Linked DNA regions of Homo sapiens. Changing the gene in region 1 together with any one later gene gives a genetic interaction. Each region holds a gene or a part of one and is shown on either strand. Other genes may lie near its edges. The genes, in order: USP8, ARID1A and PTAR1.

Region 1 (3,656 bases):
TATCTTATTTTAAAATAACTCTACTAAAAACTTTTTAAAATTAGTGATAATTTTAACAAAATTTATTCTAGAATAAATTACATATTTCTCCTACTTTTAAAAGGAGCACACAAAGAATGCAATCTTAGATGTGTAGGAATATTTGGCACCTATATACTAAATGACTCCACAAATATGAATGATTTAAGTTCTAAAGACTGCATGCCTCTAGTATAGCAAGATGGAAAAGAAGTGGCTTTGGAATCTCACTGTCTATGTGATCCTAGGCAAATACTTAACCTCTAAACTTCAGTTTCACTTGTAAATTAAATACCTTATGGGGTTATCATTAGGGGTAAATAAGACAATGCAGTGAAAATACTTGGCATATAGTAGCTACTCAATGAATAATACTTAAATTGTATCTTGGAGTGCACATGTTTTGCTCCTCCTGTGAATAAAATTAGAGAGTTTTAGTACATGGGCTTCATATCCCCAATTTGGGGTGTTTAGAAGGTTTTTGGATGGAAGCTATCTTTTTTAATAGCAGAGGTTACCAGATAAGTGTTCCCTGGATAAGAGCAGCTTGACTATGAATTAATTTTGGTAACATGCCTGAATTGTGTTTGAGAAGTATAGAAATTGACATTCTGTAAAGATGGTATCCCGCCTTCCATTAGAAGTCATTTCCACACTACTAAAAATGTTTTTTCCATTTATACATATGTAAAAAGGACCATAACTGTTCTTGGTATTATAAACATATACTTGGTGTTCAAAAGGAAAAGGCATTGTTAATGACATAATGAAGAAAAAAAGAAAAGCATAGCATTATTAGAGATTGAAAAAGAATAACAAAAAAAGTCCCCTAAAATTACGGCTATCAATTTTGGGTGTGTAGCCAAGGGCAAAATTAATTGGGTTATTTGCCAATATTATTTAAATAGATAAAGCAAGAAACAAAATGACACCGATCTGACCAAAAAATCACTATATGCAAAGATAAATGTTAGGCCATTTAGATGTCACTGATTTTGGATATATTCTAAACAGATATAAATTCTATCATACAAATATTAGCATCTAGTTTCCCCATACTGAGAAGGAGATTATATTTCACTCTAGTCTTCCCATGATCATACATCAAACATAAAAATGAAGAATGTAGCTATTTATCTCAATTATTTGAAATATATTGCATTTTATAGATGTAATATACAAAAAGCAATTTCATTCCCAACCAATCATTTCATAAATGTATGGCACTGGCCTCAAAGGAGAATAGATGAGCAAATGTGGATAGATCAGTACATTCTATCACCCCTGAAAAGACTATTTGAAATGCCTGCCCTTTTATGGAATGCCACTGGTGTTTTCACATTTTCATATACATTTTCTTTCACTTCGTTGGCAATTTGTACTGTTTCTGCTTACCTTGCCTGAACCTGAATCCCCTGTCACAGATGTATGGGGCACATCTCCTGTTGACTTTTTCTGTATTTCTGGGGTTGGACACCTTTTCCCCCTATCTTCTACAGATTTCTTGGCATCAGAAGTTTCATGTTCACTTTTACTTTGTCTTTTTACTCCTGTTATTTCTTTGCCCCTCTTTGCTGAGGTTTCTTTATCTTCTTTCTTGGCCTGTTCACTTTCTTTCTTCTCCATTTCTTCTTTTGCTTTTTGTTGCTTCTCTGTAATTTCATTTTCTTCAGCTTCTTGTTTCTTTTTGGCTTTTTGTTCTTGTTCTTCCTTCCTCAGTTTCTCTTTCTGTTCCTCTTGCTGCCTTTCCCGAAGTTCTTTTTCTTGTTTGTTTTTTTCCATTAGAAGAGCAGTTTCTGCATGAATACGAGCCTTTTCTTCATCTGTTAACATGAGAGTTGGAGAAAAAACTACTGGCTTGGTGGAACGATCAGGAATAACTTTTCCACTCTGAGGAGATTGTTGCTCATGGTTTGTACTTTCAGATTTTATTCTATGCTCTTCAGGCAATTTGACTGCTGGTTTTTTAGTACGATCAATCTAGAGCAACAAAACCAGAGCAAAACATTTTTGTCAAAAATCAGGAAATAACCTCAGTTCTTGAGATCAAGTTGTGATAAAAGAAGTGTCACTTTGTGGAGACAACATCTATCAGCACATCTATTTGTTAATTACTCAGTGTCAAGATTTCTCATAAAACAGAACTTGAATGGTAGATATTCAAACATCACTGGAACTTACATCCTCTTGATTCAACACTTTCAATTCTTCCTGAGTGTTTTGTATACAAAAGAGTTAAAAATGTCTTTATTCTAAAACATAAAACCTAGACCTGGGCATACTTAGACTTAAGTTCCACTTCCAGGTATCCAAATGCCTACCCAATATTTCCATTTGAGTGTCAACACATGTATCTCAAACCCCATACAGCCAAAACGGATTCACGATTCCCCCCACCCCGACAAACATGGTCCTAATCTCATGGATGTAACCACTCTCACTCTCCCAATAGTTGCACAAATCAAAAACCTGAGTCCCATGATATGTTCTTCCCATATCCTTCTGCACGCTGTTAATTTTCCTCCTATATCTGTCCCTCCATCTCTTCTACCACAGGCTAAGACCATGTCAACCTCCTCTCTCACCAGGACTACAGCATAGCTTTCAACTAGTTGCCCATCTCTTCTCTTGCCCCCGCCCCCCAATCTGTTTCTCCACATTATAGCCAGAGGACTCATTTTAAAACAAATTTGATTTGCTACCCACTATGCTCTCAGTACACCTAAAATCTTTACCATAGTCTGTAATGCCCTGTATGGTCTTACATCTGCCTACCTCTCCAGTCATATGGCTGTGTATACCAGCTATACTTGCCTTAAAAAAAAAATTATTCCAAGATGCCATGCTCCTTCCCAACTTAGGTCTATCAGCTGTTCATCTAGATAATGCCCACATTAGGTCTTGGCTTACACATCTCTCCCTCTGAAAAGACTTCCCTGGTTCCTAGAACTAGCCAAGTCCCCTGATACATGCTCTTATAATACTTTATTCTTCTCTACCGGAATTCTGATCAAATAACTATAATTACTTATTTAAAATTTTTCTTCCCTCCTAGAATATAAGCTCTAAAAGGATAAAGACTGTGCCTGGCACAGTTAGTAACTATGTTACTGAGGGAACAAATGCAATCTTCCCTAAAAACTTTTACATGAGGTAAAATACTAACTAGTTTCCTTCAGGTTGTGTAATAAACTACCTAAGTTCCTGATTTAATGAGTTAAATGTTTATTACCTCAATTTAACAGCATGTTAACACTAGAGAAGTGACCCTAACATCATTTCTTGAGAATACTGTGTACTGAAAGAAAAATAAAAACTTATAAGAACATGTGCCAATAACAATCTACATAGTGTTCTTACAAAACGAATTTATGTTTTTCTACTAGAAAATAAAAGAAGTTGCCAGGCGCAGTGACTCACGCCTGTAATACCAGCACTTTGGGAGGCCGAGCCGGATAGATCACTTGAGGCCAGGAGTTCGAGACCAGCCTGGGCAACATGGCAAAACCCCATCTCTACAAAAAAAATACAAAAATTAGCTGGGCGTGGTGGCATGTGCCTATAATCCCAGCTACTCAGGAGGCTGAGGTGGGAGGATTGCTTGAACCCAGGAAGTCGAGGCTGCAGTGAGCTGTGAT
Region 2 (3,656 bases), on another chromosome or scaffold:
CCCTGCATAGATCCTGATCCCGCTGTGGACAGAGATACAAGTTGAGTAGTTTGCTTGGCATGACAGTGTTTAACTCTCACACAAACACACGAACGACCCAGAATCTCTTTGGGAAAGTTCTTCCTAAGGCCTTTAAAGCCTGATCACCCTTCTTAGCAGAGGATCTACAAGGCCAGGTCATAAAGACGGGAATCTGAGGGTTTTGTAGCTCTTTGTTTTTGTTTTACGTGTAGAAAAGAGGAGTGATGTGGCCATGACATCACCATGCTGGTGATTCCCTGAGTCATTGCCAGCTTCCCTGGCTATTTCTCTTCACTCCGCCAAAGGACCTTGTCTAACCTACTAAACCCTGTAATGCTGGTGCATGAGCTCCAGTCAGAGCCTCCCAAGTCCTGGGTGGGAAGGGGGTCCCAAATCTGGGATGCATTTTAGGAGTCTAGGAGCTCCTGTTCTAAAGCATCCAGCATGGTGTCACTCCTCAACTTCAAATGTTCTTCTAAGCTGATGAGTACAAAACTACTAGTAATTAATGTTTCCAATAGTTACCATTCCCAGCAGTAGATATCCCACTGCTGAGGCCTCCCCAGCTGATGAGTCATCTCAGGCACTCATTACACCCTCAGAGGTCAACACCAGGGCACATGTGTTTACACCCACCTTCCAGGCACCCTGGCCTTCTTCCCTCTCTAGGCTCACCCTAGGCCTCAGCCTCCTCTCAGAAAGGAGGGTGAGCAGAGCCACTCCCATCAGGGAGTTCCATTCATAACCCTTCCCCACTCCCTCCTTCCCATTCATTACCATCTCAGCTCCCTGGGGAATTCAGGGCTCTAGTCTGAGCTGCATTCTAAGGTGCTGACATCAATAGGCCAAAGCTCCCAGATGGCCCTGCCTTGCTGCCATTTATAAGTTCCACCGACTCCTCTTGTGCCCCTCCCATTCACCAGTTTACAAACATTTGGCAAGTTGTCAGCTGCACAACAAAAATTAAAACTTAAGAGCTGCCGTAGAGTACCTCCCAAGGGAGTTTCCACTGCCCACTCTCTAGTCAGCCAACCTGTTAAGCCCTGTGGTAGGGCAAGGCAGAGCACAGATCCTTGGCATATCCTGTTGGATAAGCCTCTTATTCATATCCTGAATAAGAGGCCAGGGCAACAGGCCCTCTCAGCCTTGGTGGGGCCGCTGACCCCATCCTTACCAGGAGAGGGAGGCTGGATCTTGGGCTGGGACTTCTTGGAATCAGCAGCTGCAAAGATGTCTGGGGGAGGGTCTTCTCCCCGTTCAATCTTGCATTCAAAGGCATAGAGACACTGGATATACTGCTTTTTCAAGGAGCTGGCAGCACTGCTTGATGTGCCCACATTGAGGTTGGTTGCAAGTTCCCGCCATTTTTTGTTCTTGTTGACCTGTATAACCAAACCAAAGGAGTCGAGGTATATCTCCCGCCTGGTTTTCCTGCCCATAAGCCCCAAGCCCCATCAGGCTGTAAGGTATTCATCTTTGTAGAACCACAGTTCTTAGGTAATTGAAAAAGTTAATCTTGCTTGGTGGATAGTCCACAAGAAGTGTTAAATCTGCAGCTGGCTTCATTTTACCCTCAGGATGTTCCACTGCAACTATCAGACTGTGCTTATTCACAACAGGGCAAATTTCACATTACTACTGGAACAGAATTCAGAGTCCGGTTTTTTAGTACGCTGCTAAAAAGTGGTGTACAAATCATCTGGATATCTAAATCCTATTTTATTTATTTATTTTTGAGACAGAAAAAATAAATCTCGCTCTGTCGCCTAGGCTGGAGTGCAGTGGCGTGATCTTGGCTCGCTGTAACCTCTGCCTCCCGGGCTCAAGCGATTCTCTTATCTCAGCCTCCCGAGTAGCTGGGATTACAGGTGTGCACCACCACGCCTGGCTAATTTTTGTATTTTTAGTAGAGACGGGGTTTCACCATGTTGATCAGGCTGGTCTCAAACTCCTGGCGTCAAGTCATCTACCCGCCTCAGCCTCCCAAAGTGTTGGGATTACAGGCGTGAGCCACCGCGCCTGGCCCTAAATCCTATTTTAGATGCACTAATAAAAACTAACATTTTATAAAATGGAGACTCATGATAATATCAGTGACCACCCTGCTTGACTTGCTTTGTCAAACTTGGGATTTACTCATATTTTTTTCTTGGGGTGGTGGCTCCCTGCAAATTTGACATTCTTGTGCCACTGCTCCCCTACATATCTCATTGACAAATAACCACAGGTCCCTTTCCCTTACCAGTCACTGTCCTGATGGTCCGGGTGTTCAGGGTCTTATTTATTTAGAGACAGAGTCTCACTCTGTCACCCAGGCTCGAGTGTAGTGACGCCATTTCGGCTCACTGCAACCTCCGCCTCCCGTGTTCAAGTGATTCTCCTGCCTTAGCCTCCCAAGTAGTGGGACCACAGGTGCCTGTCACCACACCCCACTGATTTTTATATTTTTAGTAGAGACAAGGTTTGGCCATGTTGGCCAGGCTGGTCTCAAACTCCTGACCTCAGATGATCCGCCCGTCTCGGCCTCCCAAAGTGCTGGGATTACAGGTGTGAGCCACTGCGCCTGGCCCGGGGCCTTATTATGACTTTTGTACCTCCCGAGCAGCCAACCTACAGTTCTGCCTCCTTCCCTCAGCTTCAGGGCACACTGACCAAGCCCATTCCCCAGATGCTCCCTACAATTAGTCTTTCTGCTCTAGCTGGACAGGTCTCCTTCTTCATGTATTCTTATGCTTATTCATCTACCATATGGTAAGCCTGTTCCCCCAAGGCCTGGGAACAAGGGTTTTCAAGTCCCTATACACAAAGGAAGTTCAATAGGTTGTAATGTCTGCTGATATGATACCTATGATACTAGAAAGAAGAGTTTAAAGAGGCACAGAGGGGGACAACCTAGAGGGGCAGAGGTGACTAGGAATACTTCTTAGAGTGGGTAACACCTGAGCTAAGTCTTCATGGTTGGAGATGGCCTTGGTGGGAAATATCTAGACTCTCTCCCATCTCCGTGGCATCTAGGCCAGTCTACTGGATTGGCCACTCTTCCACCTAAACCCTACTAATCCTTTAGATAAGCTCAAGATTCAGCTTTGCTTTCTTGGAGCCTTCACAAACTAACTTATAAATAGCACTCTTTTGCCCCTGAATTATCACTGCCTTTATAAAAGTTCAGTTACAATCACGGCATTTTAAAGGTTTGCATCCTTTTCCAATCTGGAAGACAGGCTCAGGCATTAGAATTCTCTCTGTACCTCATCCTAGGTTCAGTGAACCCTGAAGCCCACCCAATCAGAAGTGAGCGAAACCTAACCCAATGCTCCCTTTCCCTATAGACAGGGAAGGCTTGACTATGAGATCTGAGTATCAGGGAGAATGGCAGGAATATGCATGGAGTCACCTCAAAAGCCTTCCGTGGCTTTGCTTCTCATGCCAGTTATGTGGCAGTATGCACGTGTCTTATTTTGTTTTGTTTTCCTTTGTGGGGGAGGGGAATAAAGCCTGAAGGGAGAAGGAATTCATAACTGACTGTTGGCTGGCTTCATTCCAACCACTTTCTTTTCTGCTGGTGACAGCTGTTTTCCTCTTCTGATTTAGAAGGTTTGGAATAAATCCCTCCCTGCCACACCTCCCCGAGCTCA
Region 3 (3,656 bases), on another chromosome or scaffold:
ACAGCATCTGGTATGAGTAGACCCTTGGTAATGGCTACCAAACTGGCAACTAAAATTCTCTAGGAAACAAAGTTCTTATTCAAAATCAGCCTCCAGGCATATTGAGCGCTTTTGAAGGTACTGCCGTACATGGGAAGGGGAAGAAGCTTTACAAAAACAGTAAAGGACATGGTCTTAAATTAGTCTTCTCCCAAAAAGTGAGACCTGAGGTGGGCATACAATGATAAACAGAATTTGTGCACATGGAGGCTTAATATGGCAGAACACCAAGAAAAGAGACCAGATGGAATGATTAGGGATTGTCTGATGCAGTAAAAAAAAAAACTGTCTGAGAGAAATGGAAGAAGTGAATGCCGGATAGTTTTGTTTTGCTCATTTCAGCACAGGAACAGGATACAAACGGCCAGAGCTCAACTGGAACTTGCAGTGGAATGGCACATCCATAAATCACTGGGCTGGTTCATAATATCACTACCACTATCATGCCTACATTATCTCATTTGGACTACTATGAAAATGAGTTTTGCTGCCTATAAAAATACTAAAGGATTAGAAACCAGAGACTGAGCCTATAGGGACTAGAGTCTTCTTCAGTGACATTCAGATTTTTTTTTTTCCTTCAAATGAAATCTTACCAATGACCCCAATACATAAACTGATAAAATCTGAACTGCTCTGGTTACAGGAGGTGCCCTGAAATTCTGCTTGAGGGCTTCTATATAATCACTGTGGTTGTAAAATTTGTCCAGGTGAGTAGAAACTACTCACTTGACAGAAAGGTTAGCACCCACCGAGACAGTGAACAGAAGAAGCAGAACTAGAATCCAGGAATGCTGACACTCAGAGAAGGGCTCTTCCTACTATATTCCATGTCGCTTCTAAAAACCAAATGAAGAAAATATGATTCATACTTACCATCTCTGTTCAGCCATTGCTTTCTTGTTCTGTACAAAAGGAGCTTGTTGTGGACATATGGTAAAAGGAACTTGACACACCAGCTCTCCACACCCAGTTTGTTTTCAACCAGGACTATGGGACTCCGGTTATACCTAGCTTCAGGACATGGGATCAGGCCAATTTCATCTCTTAATATGTAAAACATAAAAAAGAATTAAAAATAAGGATACTAACCTTTTCAACATTTTTCTAATTTCAGAGTATTTTAAAAACCCCACATATTTCCCCCTTCCTTACAAATATTATTTAGCTCACTTACTGGGATTGGTAGATGCTAATAGTGGCAAGAGTATGAGAAAACCAGTATGCTGTACTCTCTGTAGACAGGAGTGAAAACTGGTCTTGCCTTTGGATGGCAACTTAAAAAAAAGTCTTTCAAAATTTTGAAGGAACATACCCTTTGATCCAGCAATTCAACTGCTCAGAAATTATCCTATGCCAAAATATGTGAATCAGATGTTCACTGCAATGTTGCAACAAAACTAGAAACAATCTAAATGTTTATCAATATAAGACTAGTAAAAAAAAAAGGCCCATCCACATAATCAAGCCATTAAAAAACAATGAGGTAGATCTGCATATGCTGACATAAAAAAAGTTGCCAAGATATATGAAATGAAAACAAAAAGCAAAATGCTGAACACAGTGTACAGCACAAATCCTTTTGTATAATTTCTTTAGAAGATATATAGATGCATTAAAAATTTTCTTGGAAGGATAACAAGAAATTTTTGGAGAGAGAAAGGTGGTAAGGAAGGATTTTATTTTTATACAGTTTCAATTATCTAATAATTGTATGTATTTCTATTTTTTTAATGTCAACAAATGTGTTTATGCTTGCTTGCTAATAAATGCATGTGGACCAGAAACAAAGTATCAAAAAACGTTATTTTATCAGTGAGATTTTGGGCCATTTTTTCTTCTTTATATTTTCCTGAATTAAAAAACCACCCAAATAAATGTTAAAACACAAAATACATTTCAGAATTCAATAATTTTCCTCTGTGGTAGCATCTATATCCCTCAATCCACCTCAACTTAAGCTGAAAATTTACATTAAAGGCAGAGATTTAATAAACAATATGTAGGGCATTTGACTTACTTAGTAAATGAACCAGCAAACGTAAAAAATTTGTGCAAAACACATTCACATGCCTTTCAACTCTAAAGGAAGTTATAATTCTTGCCTACACAAAGGATCCTTTCTCAAACAGAATGTCCTCTGTTTAATTAATGAATAACAAGAAACTTTTTAACAATAAGAGTAGTTGAAATAAATGTTTTTAGAGTGTCTATATAGATATTTTAAACATGTCTTTAAAAAGCAGAATAATGAACTGGTTTTCAGAGTTTGTGTGTGACATTATGTATTATGTCCCTGGCATCCCCTTACCAAGAACACAGTGGTTTGATAGACCCAAAAGAGGGAAATTGGTTGAATTACAAAGTAGGAGAAACACCCTGTCTTTTTGTTGGGCCACTATCACAAATTGGTAGGAGGCTGTGGATTTAAAATAAAACCCCTCCTGGAAACTAAACTGAATAGCTTAGAGGTAATCTACTTTCTACTGATCACTTCATTAGTGGCACAGGGATTTATCAATAAAAAGGATATCTTAGGGGTTGCAAGACACTAACAATTCTTTCAAGCTAATTTAACTCTCAAGAAGACTGTGGGATCTATGGGTTTTTATCCTTACAATTGGTTCCGTTGACTCAAAGGTGTTTTGATATACTATATCAATACTATCATAAGTTTTCTGATTAACTACAATGTACTGGGTGCTTTCTTAGGTTCTAAAATTCAAAAAGAATAAAGCAAAGTGGTCTCAGACTTCAAAGAGCTAAAGTCTTGCTGGGGATCTGTGTCAATATCCATAATAAAATGTTACCACTTTACTACTCCAATAATATAAACAAAGTCCTGTAGGAAGAATAAGGACAAAGCTGAAAGAGCACCTGAGGTCAATGCCCAGTATTTCAAAATATATTTTGTGCATCTCTATTTGGTAGTATCCTGAAATCTATCTAATTCATTATTATGACCCCTAGCCATATCTAGCTATACTTGACTAATATATGACTGAATCTCTGGTATTTTCTGATGTTTGTGTTTTACTACATGAAGAATATTAAAAAATAAAGTAAAACTAAATAAGTAAATAAACTCAATGTGATTATTTCAGGAAATTCTGTTCTCTGAGATATAATAACCTACTTACAACACTTCAAAGAACTGCAAGAGTCAACAATATAACTGTTATAGTAACAAGAATAAAAGAATCCTGTTTCTGGGTATGGTTTGTTTTTGGGGGGGATTTTTTTTTTAAACTTAAATTCACAATATAAAAACCTGTCTTGCTCACTAATTAAACTAGGATTAAAATGCCCAGCTAATAATTTGGTATCTAAACTACAGAAAAGAGCCATCTGCACAATTAAAAAACACACTGCTTTGACTGTCTGTTCTTTCAAGAAATACTTTATAAAATAAGAATGGCTTGGATATAGCAGGTGCCCAATAGCTGCTTCCTGAAAGGCTGATTATCCTGGTACTTTAGTGATAATATTCAAATTAATAGTTTTCACTTCTTGTCCCTCTAAAAGAACATTATCTCTGATTTTCTCCTAATAAAGTATACTGAAAACAGCATGTGTCCAAGTCCTGGATGGAAATAGATATATACACACACACATAT

What was found.
Region 2: changes in USP8 (region 1) and ARID1A together harm fitness more than expected from each alone (negative genetic interaction), as found in Homo sapiens cells (one large-scale study listed by BioGRID).
Region 3: changes in USP8 (region 1) and PTAR1 are lethal when combined (synthetic lethality), as found in Homo sapiens cells (one study listed by BioGRID).

What each region holds. Positions count from the first base shown.
Region 1 is NC_000015.10:50,479,823-50,483,478, reverse strand, and holds part of USP8 (ubiquitin carboxyl-terminal hydrolase 8), read right to left. Parts: intron 1,999-3,656; coding exon 1,414-1,998; intron 1-1,413. UniProt on the Homo sapiens protein: Hydrolase that can remove conjugated ubiquitin from proteins and therefore plays an important regulatory role at the level of protein turnover by preventing degradation. Converts both 'Lys-48' an 'Lys-63'-linked ubiquitin chains.
Region 2 is NC_000001.11:26,768,866-26,772,521, reverse strand, and holds part of ARID1A (AT-rich interactive domain-containing protein 1A), read right to left. Parts: intron 1,404-3,656; coding exon 1,196-1,403; intron 23-1,195; coding exon 1-22. UniProt on the Homo sapiens protein: Involved in transcriptional activation and repression of select genes by chromatin remodeling (alteration of DNA-nucleosome topology).
Region 3 is NC_000009.12:69,749,866-69,753,521, forward strand, and holds part of PTAR1 (protein prenyltransferase alpha subunit repeat-containing protein 1), read right to left. Parts: intron 1,086-3,656; coding exon 916-1,085; intron 1-915.